Linked DNA regions of Homo sapiens. Changing the gene in region 2 together with the main gene of any one other region gives a genetic interaction. Each region holds a gene or a part of one and is shown on either strand. Other genes may lie near its edges.

What was found.
Region 1: changes in TMED2 (region 2) and RAB1A are lethal when combined (synthetic lethality), as found in Homo sapiens cells (one study listed by BioGRID).

What each region holds. Positions count from the first base shown.
Region 1 is NC_000002.12:65,086,354-65,092,411, reverse strand, and holds the end of RAB1A (ras-related protein Rab-1A), read left to right. Parts: intron 1-1,333; coding exon 1,334-1,429; intron 1,430-3,341; coding exon 3,342-3,473; intron 3,474-3,721; coding exon 3,722-3,919; 3' UTR 3,920-5,558; downstream 5,559-6,058. UniProt on the Homo sapiens protein: The small GTPases Rab are key regulators of intracellular membrane trafficking, from the formation of transport vesicles to their fusion with membranes.
Region 2 is NC_000012.12:123,594,397-123,599,232, reverse strand, and holds the end of TMED2 (transmembrane emp24 domain-containing protein 2 isoform 1 precursor), read right to left. Parts: intron 2,629-4,836; coding exon 2,504-2,628; 3' UTR 651-2,503; downstream 1-650. UniProt on the Homo sapiens protein: Involved in vesicular protein trafficking. Mainly functions in the early secretory pathway but also in post-Golgi membranes.

The DNA.
Region 1 (6,058 bases), on a different chromosome or scaffold from region 2:
ACTGTTAGGTGACTCTCCCTAATATTAAATAACCAGGAACCTGGATTTGATGTTTTGAAGTCAGGGTAGCTTGATCCTCGAGTTCATGCTTCCTCCAAGGATACACTGAAAGACTTTGAGCCTCTTTTTTTTTTTTTCTCTTTTTTTGAGACAGGATCTGGCTCTCTTGCCCAGAGTGCAGTGGTGTGATCTCAGCTCACTGCAACCTCTGCCTCCTGGGCTCAAGCGATTCTGCCTCAGCCTCTCGAGTAGCTGGGACCACAGGCGCACGCCAGCATACTTGGCTAATTTTTGGATTTTTAGTAGAGACAGGGTTTCACCATGTTGGTCAGGCTGGTCTCGAACTCCTGAGCTCGTAATCCGCCCGTCTCGGCCCCACAAAGTGCTGGGATTACAGGCGTGAGCCACCGTACCCAGTCCCAACAGTTTTTTAAAACCCAGAACTATAATGCAATAATGTTAGCATTTGTTTTGGGAGTTTGAGCCTAAATGGTTGAAGTGCAGTAAATTGTTCTTAAAATACGTTTTATGAAAGTATTTGGAGTCATCTTCCTTACATTTTTTTCTCTAGGATGAAGACAACACCTAGCCAGGCATGGTGGCTCATGCCAGTAATGCCAGCACTTTGGGAGAATGAGTTAGGATAATTGCTTGAGTCCAGGAATTTGAGACCAGCCTGGGCAATGTAGCGAGACTCTGTCTCTACAAAAAAGAAAAAATTAGCCGGGTGTGGTGGCATGTGCCTGTAGTCCCAGCTACTCAGGAGGCTCAGGTGGAAGGATTGCTTGAGGTGGGAGGTTGAGGCTGCAGCGAGCCATGATCATGCCACTGTACTCAGCCTGGATGACAGAATGAGACGCTGCTTGAGAGGGGAAAAAAAAGACACCTGCTTGGGATGATTAAAGTTCTGTCTTGACTGGTAGTTATTTGAATTAGGTCCCTCCAGTGCTTTTAATCATGGTAGAATGTGCTAGCAAGTGAGTTTGTCTTACATGGAAGAGTTCTGTGTTCAAGGGCTTTCGGCCAGTGGCATTCCTAAACACAGTGTTAAAGGCGGTAGGGAATGTGAAAAGTATGACATAGTTCCTGCTCTCAACAGCTTGTAATTTTAGTATTATTATCGTAAGCTCAATTGTAGGTACTACTTCTTTTCTGGACTTTCAGGTGCTTATTACCGTGCAATTTAGTGGTATGAGTTGAGGACTAATGTTTCTATATCACATCCTGATAATCTCCACAGTTATGAAAACTAAACTATTTCCCCTCCCTCCTACACTTTTCCCCAACTTTATTTTAATGGAATTGTTTGGATTTCTTGATTGTTTTGTAATAGTGGGACACAGCAGGCCAGGAAAGATTTCGAACAATCACCTCCAGTTATTACAGAGGAGCCCATGGCATCATAGTTGTGTATGATGTGACAGATCAGGTAAGTTCCAAGAGGAGATTGTGTTACAGTGACCAAGTAGGAAGCCATTATTTGATTAATGTCAGATTCATTTACTACTTCATATATAAGCCATCAGTATTAATTTTATGGCAGAAAACTTTGTCCACTCTCAAATATAAATGTGAATCACTTAAAAGACATTTGTTTTCCTGTAATAAATAAAAGATTAGTAATTAGTTTTACGTTTGCTTTCAAGGGATTCTGGTTGTATTTATTGTCAACTAAATAACTTTGATCAAATAGCCAAGACTCTAACATATAGGCAAGAGTTTGTAGGGAATCGTGAGTTGCTTGGCTTATACTGTGTTCTTGGTGTTAAGTATTAACAGGAATATGGCCTGGTAATTAGAACTTGTCCATCAGAATTGCCAAAAGTGGGATTCGGGGGTCTCTGCCTATGGAGGATGTGGTTCAGAAATAAAGAATTTGAATAGGATAAGCTGTAGGAGGATCTTAGTATGAGAATGAGTATCTGAAGATTAGCTGTGAGAGAGGGCAGAGCGATGGAGGGAACAATGTGGGACAGTGTGAAGCATGTGATCCAGGGGCCATAACTTTTTTTGTTACTATTTTTTTAAATCAGAAACTTAGATTTCAGTGTCCTTTCTATCAAAGAAAAGGACAAAAGATAAACGTTCAAAATTGGAATTTATTTTTCTTTTGGCAAATGTTAAATCTCACCTCTAATGAGAAATCATAGCTAATTAGGAGATAACTTACATGTAAGCATTTAGATTCAGTGCCATTAGAAGTGCTGGGTGGGTGATATCTGCAGGAGAAAAAAATGATGCTAGTTTAAAAAATCTCTACTATTACCGTGAAATATTTTTAAATGAAAACTTTCGTCCTCTAAATATGACTGTGGAAAAGAAAATGAGTATATTTAATAACATCTTTTGACATCTCTAGTAGTAACAGTAGGTCATCTTATTCATAAACCAAAATTTTACCAAATTTCAGGCCAGGCGCAGTGGCTCACGCCTGTAATCCCAGAACTTTGGGAGGCCGAGGCGGGCGGATCACCTGAGGTCAGGAGTTAGAGACTAGCCTCGCCAACATGGCAAAATCCCATCTCTAGTAAAAATACAAAAATTAGCCAGGCGTGGGGGCCCGTGCCTGTAATCCTAGCCACTTGGGAGGCTGAGACAGGAGAATCGCTTGAACCCAGCGGGCAGAGGTTGCAGTGAGCCGAGATCGCGCCATTGCACTCCAGCCTGGATGACAGAACAAGACTTTGTCTCAAAAAAAAAAAAAAAAAATTAATCAAATTTCAAAACCAGGTTTTGTAGTACATTTAAATTGCATATTCCAAAGCAGTTGGGTTTGCCTGCGTTGCAGTTTAATATTAAGCTATACTTCCCTTTCAAATAAGGTATTTTCATCGTTAAGCCTGTAAATTCTAGTTTGTCATTGTTTAGATATTTATAGTCATTTTAATATATCTGTTTACGGCCAGCTGCAATGGCTAACACCTGTAAACTCAGCACTTTTTGAGGCCAAGGTGGGCCGATTGAGCTCAGGAGTTCGAGACCAGCCTGGGCAACATAGTGAAACTCCATCTATACAAAAAATCCAAAAAAAAAAAGACAGGTGTGGTGGCATGTGCCTGTAGTCCCAGCTATCCCGGAGGCGGAGGCGGGAGGATGGCTTGAGCTTGGGAGGTCGAGGGTGCAGTGAGCTGTGATTGTGCCACTGCACTCCGGCCTAGGTGACAGAGCAAGACCCTGTCTCAAAAAAAAAAATCTCTTCACTCCTTAGCAGTGGTTATTTTGTAGCTAGAGTTGTCTCACTAGCTCTTTGTTATTTGTCTGTTAGGTCAGGAACGATGTTTCTGTTTATTCCAGAACTATATTATCGAACTATATTATCAGTCTTTCAAATGTCTTTTTAGGAGTCCTTCAATAATGTTAAACAGTGGCTGCAGGAAATAGATCGTTATGCCAGTGAAAATGTCAACAAATTGTTGGTAGGGAACAAATGTGATCTGACCACAAAGAAAGTAGTAGACTACACAACAGCGAAGGTATGTTTAAAGTTTAATTTTCATACTGAATTTGAAGGTGTTGAATTATGTATGGGTTCTGCAGTAACAGTAAGGCCACAGCCTTTTAAAAATATGTGCACTAGAATACTGTGACAGTGACAATTTGTGTAGCATCTGTTTGGATCCAATGAACTTAGTTCCTCACGCTCCATTATGGATGGTAGAAATGCACTAAGAATTAGTGAAAAAGATTTTTCAGTGTTAATTGTGCCTCATTATTCTCTTAGGAATTTGCTGATTCCCTTGGAATTCCGTTTTTGGAAACCAGTGCTAAGAATGCAACGAATGTAGAACAGTCTTTCATGACGATGGCAGCTGAGATTAAAAAGCGAATGGGTCCCGGAGCAACAGCTGGTGGTGCTGAGAAGTCCAATGTTAAAATTCAGAGCACTCCAGTCAAGCAGTCAGGTGGAGGTTGCTGCTAAAATTTGCCTCCATCCTTTTCTCACAGCAATGAATTTGCAATCTGAACCCAAGTGAAAAAACAAAATTGCCTGAATTGTACTGTATGTAGCTGCACTACAACAGATTCTTACCGTCTCCACAAAGGTCAGAGATTGTAAATGGTCAATACTGACTTTTTTTTTATTCCCTTGACTCAAGACAGCTAACTTCATTTTCAGAACTGTTTTAAACCTTTGTGTGCTGGTTTATAAAATAATGTGTGTAATCCTTGTTGCTTTCCTGATACCAGACTGTTTCCCGTGGTTGGTTAGAATATATTTTGTTTTGATGTTTATATTGGCATGTTTAGATGTCAGGTTTAGTCTTCTGAAGATGAAGTTCAGCCATTTTGTATCAAACAGCACAAGCAGTGTCTGTCACTTTCCATGCATAAAGTTTAGTGAGATGTTATATGTAAGATCTGATTTGCTAGTTCTTCCTTGTAGAGTTATAAATGGAAAGATTACACTATCTGATTAATAGTTTCTTCATACTCTGCATATAATTTGTGGCTGCAGAATATTGTAATTTGTTGCACACTATGTAACAAAACAACTGAAGATATGTTTAATAAATATTGTACTTATTGGAAGTAATATCAAACTGTATGGTGATAAGTATTGTTTTGATTCTTATGGTTAAAGGGAAATAGAGCCTTGCATTATATTCAACACAGCCATTTGTGTGTGCACAATGCAAACTAAGGTATTCTAGACCTATCTTAGAGCAGCATCCAGTATTTGCTTTCTAGATAATATGCCCAATAACATGACCTAGAGGGGCTTCTGTGCTGTGTAGGGATTTAACCAACTTCAGTGGTTCAGGGAGCTCAAACTATATGTAAAACAAGTTTAGAATGTATGCTATCTAGCCCGTTATCTCTGATCCTTCTCTAAAACCATTTGAAATAGCTTCATTGATCAACATTTCATAAATGCATCTGTGGTAGAGGTAGAAAGCAGCACCTTTCCTAATTGGCAAATGATCAGACTAATGTGTGCTAATGTTTTTCTTCCATGCTTTCAGTCAGATTCAACTATTTTATCCTCCACAGTTGCTTAACTTGGTGTTGGAGGAGGGTTTAAGCATTAAGATAGGAAGCAGGAAATTTGATTGCTCTAAATTTAGAAATTATATCCCTAAAAATTAAAACATGAATACTGGGTGGTAATGATAATTGAGGCAAATGTATTTATTTTGGTGACATTTTGCATATATGAAGATTTTCTGAAATAGGACCTTCAAGATCCTAGGGGGTTTTGTTTGGTTTTTAATTGTGAGGAATAAAAAATCTTCTGCCCACACTGGCATTTTAAGGTGACTGAGGTCAAACGTTGTTTCCTTAGGTTGAAATAGCAGCCAAAACATTCTTCACGCAGGGGCTTGGGATATGGCTGCTGGCAACACATTTTGTTGTGGGCTCCTTAATTTAATGATAAAATTTAAGCTAAACACAAGCCAAAAATGAATAGGTTTTTTTAATTTTTATTTTTCACTAAACAGGCAATTGAAATACATGGTACAAAAATAAGTGGTAAGATAATTGTAAAATGAAATGGACAGAATATTCAATTTTCCATCTATGAAAATTTCACAATAAAAATCATAGTTTACTTTGTATTATAGGCGTGCTTGGTGGATCTATTCATCCTCACATAAGGCAACTGACAAATTCCTGAAGTTACCAATAGTTATTTTGGTGAAGATCTTTAATGCTTCAGAAGTTTTGTTTTTGCCTTAATACAGTATAAAGGGGGAAAGAGTTCAGAAACTATTTTCTAAAGTAGCTAAATGACACAAAACAAATGTCAAGATACTGTGATGCCATGCCGTGCACTTCATTTTTACACAGTAAAAGTTGTTTAAATTGTCAGCTTATTCTTGGTGAGTTAGCGGAAACATTACATGAACTTAAGATGAGCATATTTACAGACTTAAGTTTGGAAAATTCCAGCGTTCTTTTCCCCATGGCAGTAAAGATTGGGATTTACAACAAATTTCAGCATGCCTTAAGATTTGCTTCTATGTATACGCCAATAAATGTGGTTCTGGAAAAAATATATACCCCTTTATACCCCCATTTTCAAGTACAAACGGTTCAAAGCTACTACAGGTTTTAA
Region 2 (4,836 bases):
CGGCTAGGCACGGTGGCTCATGTCTGCAATCCCAACACTTTGGGAGGCTGAGGCAGGAGGATCACTTGAGCCCAGGAGAATGAGGCCAGCCTGGGCAACATACAGGAGACTCTGCCTCTACAAAAATAATTTTTTAATTAGCTAGGCGTGGTGGTGCATGCCTGTGGTCCCAGCTACTCGGGAGGCTGAGATGAGAGGATCACTTGAGAGGTTAAGGCTCCAGTGAGCCATGTTTGTGCCACTGCACTCCAGTCCAGGTAACAAAGCAAGACCCTGTCTTTAAAAAACAAAAAATGTAGTCCCAGCTACTTGGAGAGCTGAGGTGGTAGGATCACTTGAGCCCGGGAGGTTGAGGCTTCAGTGAGCAGAGATCAAGCCAACCTGGGAACAGAGTGAGATCCTGTCTCCAAAAAAAGAAAAGGTGGGAGACTTCACAGACAGTTCTGAAAGCAAAGGCACAGGGAAATTACATATCTGTGTGTGTCTTCTGGGCTCTACTACCTACTAGTTTTCTGACCTTAAGACCCTTTCCAAGCCTGTTTTCCTCCTCACTTCCAAAATGGTTTTACCCAAGGTAATGGCAGTTTTGAAGCATGAATAAGACAGACCAAGTAAAGTGCTTAGTACTAGATCGAGACATTACACAGTACTCAAGAAATGGTAGCTACTTTTATTACCAGCAGGCCGTTAGTTTCACAGAGGAAGAACAGTTTCTACAGGTGGTGATCTAGTCTCCGGTTCCACCTTTCACTCTTTTCTGTGGCCTTGGGCAAATCATTTAATCTGTCTTTGAAGCTATTTCCCACATTCATAAACTACGTGGGCAAGTGAAAATAATTCAACCCTTTTTTCCCAAATAGAAAAATACTTAAGATTTTAGCACTGATCCATCAGAGAAGCCACACTGGAAAACCTACGCAGAAACTAAAACTTGGTACCATTCACTATCCTCAAGTTTATAGAATTAAAAAGTAACAGACGTAATAGGTATAAATACTCAGAAAACATGAACATGTCTCATGTCAAATAAGAACAGAAAGTTGGTGTGTAAAAAATGTGGATTAGCTGTCAATATATAAAACACAGAATACTGTTTTTAAAAAGAATTGTTTATTTACCGAACCTGGGGCATATTAGATACAACCAATTTTAAATTTACATCTTTTAAATCAGTTTTGAAGTGTTTCACACACACAAAAAACTTGGCATGCAACAGTTGTCCTAAGGTGAAAGTCACCTCATTAATAAACTGTTGCAAGTGTTCTCACCCAAGGTGGAAGTATGGTTTATCCTGAACATGAAAACCTGTAACAAATTTAAATTAATTATATAAAACTCGTTACTTGTAGTTTTGCCCTTGCAAAGATCCAAAAAAAAAAAAAAAAGCACAAGTAACTAATATGTATCAGTCACAACATAATCCTGGATCATCCCCATACCAAAACCGGATGCTCTTTTAATTTTAAACCCATCATCAGAGAACAAGAGAAAGTAATTTCATTTTACACAAAACAAGATTCACATGTGCCAAAAAAGAAAGACCCAAAAGAAACAAAAACCAAAACCCTAATGCTGACACTGATGGTCAGTACCCTGAACAGTGGCCCAAAGGCCACTGATCAAAAATAAAATAGTGGCTGTATATCAATGAAATGAAATCCAAGAAGCTTTAACCCTTTGGCATCAGAAATCCAGATTTTTCCAATTATGTAAATGCTTATTTCTTACATGCCAAGAGTGGGAGAAGTGAATGTGCCAATGTGGAAAGAAAAAAAGCCACCACTCACTGGGACACCCAGAGAATTGGCTTTAACAGACAATTAGGGGGTTAGGCAGAAACCCAGAAATGGTTATTAGCTGCTTGTGTCATCAATTTAAGTGGAGATGACTGAGTCCTAAGGTACAATGTAAAAATGTATGTGGGAAAATGTATGCTGAGTCGTAGTTTTAAAGCAAAACAAGAAAACAAAGTATGAAAGTACCCAGCCTGGCAGCATACACCCAAGTCAGAGAGCTCTGCCATTAGGACGGGCAGAAACCGTCAAGATTCATACTGCTGTTTCTCATAAGGACTCAACAAAAATGAATCTTTAGTGACTTGAACCATAGACTGAAGGAATCCAAAGAATGCAGTCATTTTAGTAAAGTACTATCAGGCTTTGTGCTGATTTCCTGAACAAACTGCATTATATTATGAAAACAAAAGGAAAAGAAGAAATAATAAAAACTATACTCCCATATTTCACTTACAGTGTTTGAGTTCCTGGAAGGACCTATATAATGGAGGCAGCATTCAAACAAGAAATTATGCCAATCAACTGTCAAATTTTCACTATAATTTTCCTAAAAAGGCGTTTTTCCCCCAATATCTATTAATCTCAAAGAAACATAAGTTGTGAATGTACAGTTCAGAAAATAAAAATGGAGAAACTAATGACATTATTATGACCAAGGTGTTTGGTAAACAGTGAATTCTGAGTTGGGATCATCAGGAAGAGGCTTTTTAAACAACTCTCCGGACTTCAAAAAATCTCTTCAGGTAGTAGATCTGTCCCAATGTCATGGCAACTAGAACAAGAGCTTCAAAGAAGGACCAAAGGACCACTCTGCTGTTTGTGTTGTCGTTGACTGTTGAGGACAAAACAAACAAACAAAATTTAACAATTCTCCCCCAAAAAGACATAGGCATCATAAATATTTTAGTCTTCACTCTGTGTGAAAGTAATATTGTGTACACCACTCATAGAATAGATGTTCCTCAACTTACGATGGGGTTACATCCCAATAAACCCAGCTTATGTTGAAAATACATAAGTCAAAAATATATTTAATACACCTAACCTAGCAAACATCATAGCTTAGCCTAGCCTACGTAAAACACGATCAGAACACTTACATTAGCCTACAGTTGAGCAAAAGCATCTAACAACACAAAGATTATTTTATAATAAAGTGTTGTGTATCTCATACACGTTAAACTGCATTTTATTATTATTTTCTATTTTATTTATCAAGTTAGTGAACACTGCACTGAAAGTAAAAAACAGAATGGTTGCATGGGTACTTGATGCTCAGTTTCTTCTGAATGCACATCACTTTTGCACCATCATAAAGCTGAAAATTTCTAAGTGAAGTCATTGTAACCTATGGGTCACCTATACTCTAAATACTTTTGTCTCCAAGCAACTCAACATACTCCAAAGCAAAGACTTTTTTGTTTGCTCTGTTGCCCAGGCTGGAATGCCATGACACAATCATAGTTCACTGCAACCTTGAACTGTACTCAAGCAATCCTGCCACCTCAGCCTCCTGAGTAGCTGGGAGTACAGGTATGCACCAGCCCATTTGACTAATTTTTTCTGTTTTTGTAGAGAAAGGGTCTTGCTATGTTGCCCAAGTTGGTCTTGAACTCCTGGCCTCAACTGATCCTCCTGCCTCAGCCTCCCAAAGTAGAAGCAAAGATTTTTAAAAGAAACCTTAAAGATTCACTGGGTACAGCCAAGTCCATTCTGCTTGTATATGGGGAGCAGAGAAGAAAATGTGACTTGCCCAAGGTCATAATTCTAGGGTTAAAACCCAATACAACCATCTTTCTCCCTCACCATTGAAACGTCCTGTATTAGTATCCAATTTGCTGAATCAGAAAACTGACTTCTAAAAAAATTAAGGAATTATTTCAAAATCACAGTTATCCAAAATGCAATTATTTACAACATCAAAATATGGCAGTCTGAGTGTCTTTTTCCCCAAATATGTTACAAATATTTGTTGAGCACCTGTGTACTTGTCAATTGTTCTCAATGGAAGAGGTTACTCAGTTATATGGATCCATACTGACAGTTACTACCAGACCATCAAATACAAGACAAACTATGCTCATCTGTCCTGCTCTCAAACTAAGGATTTGATCCTTAAAGTAAAATCCACACCTACTCTATATTTACTATACTCTATTTGTTACATTCAAGTTTCTGATCAAATTCTTTTTATTTACTTACTTTTTTTTGAGTCAGAGTCTCACTGTCACCCAGGCTGGAGGGCAGTGGCGCAATCTCAGCTCACTGCAACCTCTGCCTCCTGGGTTCAAGTGATTCTCCTGTCTCAGACTCCTGAGTAGCTGGGATTACACGTGCACACCCCCATGCCTGGCTAATTTTTGTATTTTTAGTAGAGATAGGGCTTCACCATGTTGGTCAGGCTGGTCTTGAACTCTTAACCTCAGGTGATCTGCCTGCCTCGGCCTCCCAAAGTGCTGGGATTATAGGCATGAGCCACCACGCCTGGCCAAATTCTTTTTATTTTTAAATGTATTTTATTATTATTATTATTTTATTTTTTATGTTTTGAGACAGAGTTTCACTCTTGTTGCCCAGGCTGGAGTGCAATGACGCGATCTCAGCTCACTGCAACCTCCACCTCCTGGGTTCAAGCGATTCTCCTGCCTCAGCCTCCCAAGTAGCTGAGCTTACAGACATGTACCACCATACCTGACTAATTTTGTATTTTTAGTAGAGATGCGGTTTCTCCATGTTAGTCAGGCTGGTCTCGAACTCCCGACCTCAGGTGATCCACCCACCTCGGCCTCCCAAAGTGCTGGGATTATAGGCATGAGCCATCACGCCTGGCCAATTTATTTTATTTTTTTAAAAACGGTCTCGTGTTGCCCAGGTTGGTCTCAAGCTCCTGACCTCAAACAATCCTCCTGCCTCAGGCTCAGAAGCAGCTAAGACTACAGGCACAAGCCATTGTGTCCAACTCTCCAGTCAAATTCTATAGCCTTAGCTTTTAATTACTATGTAGGCTGGGCACAGTGGCTCATGCCTGTAATCCCAGCAC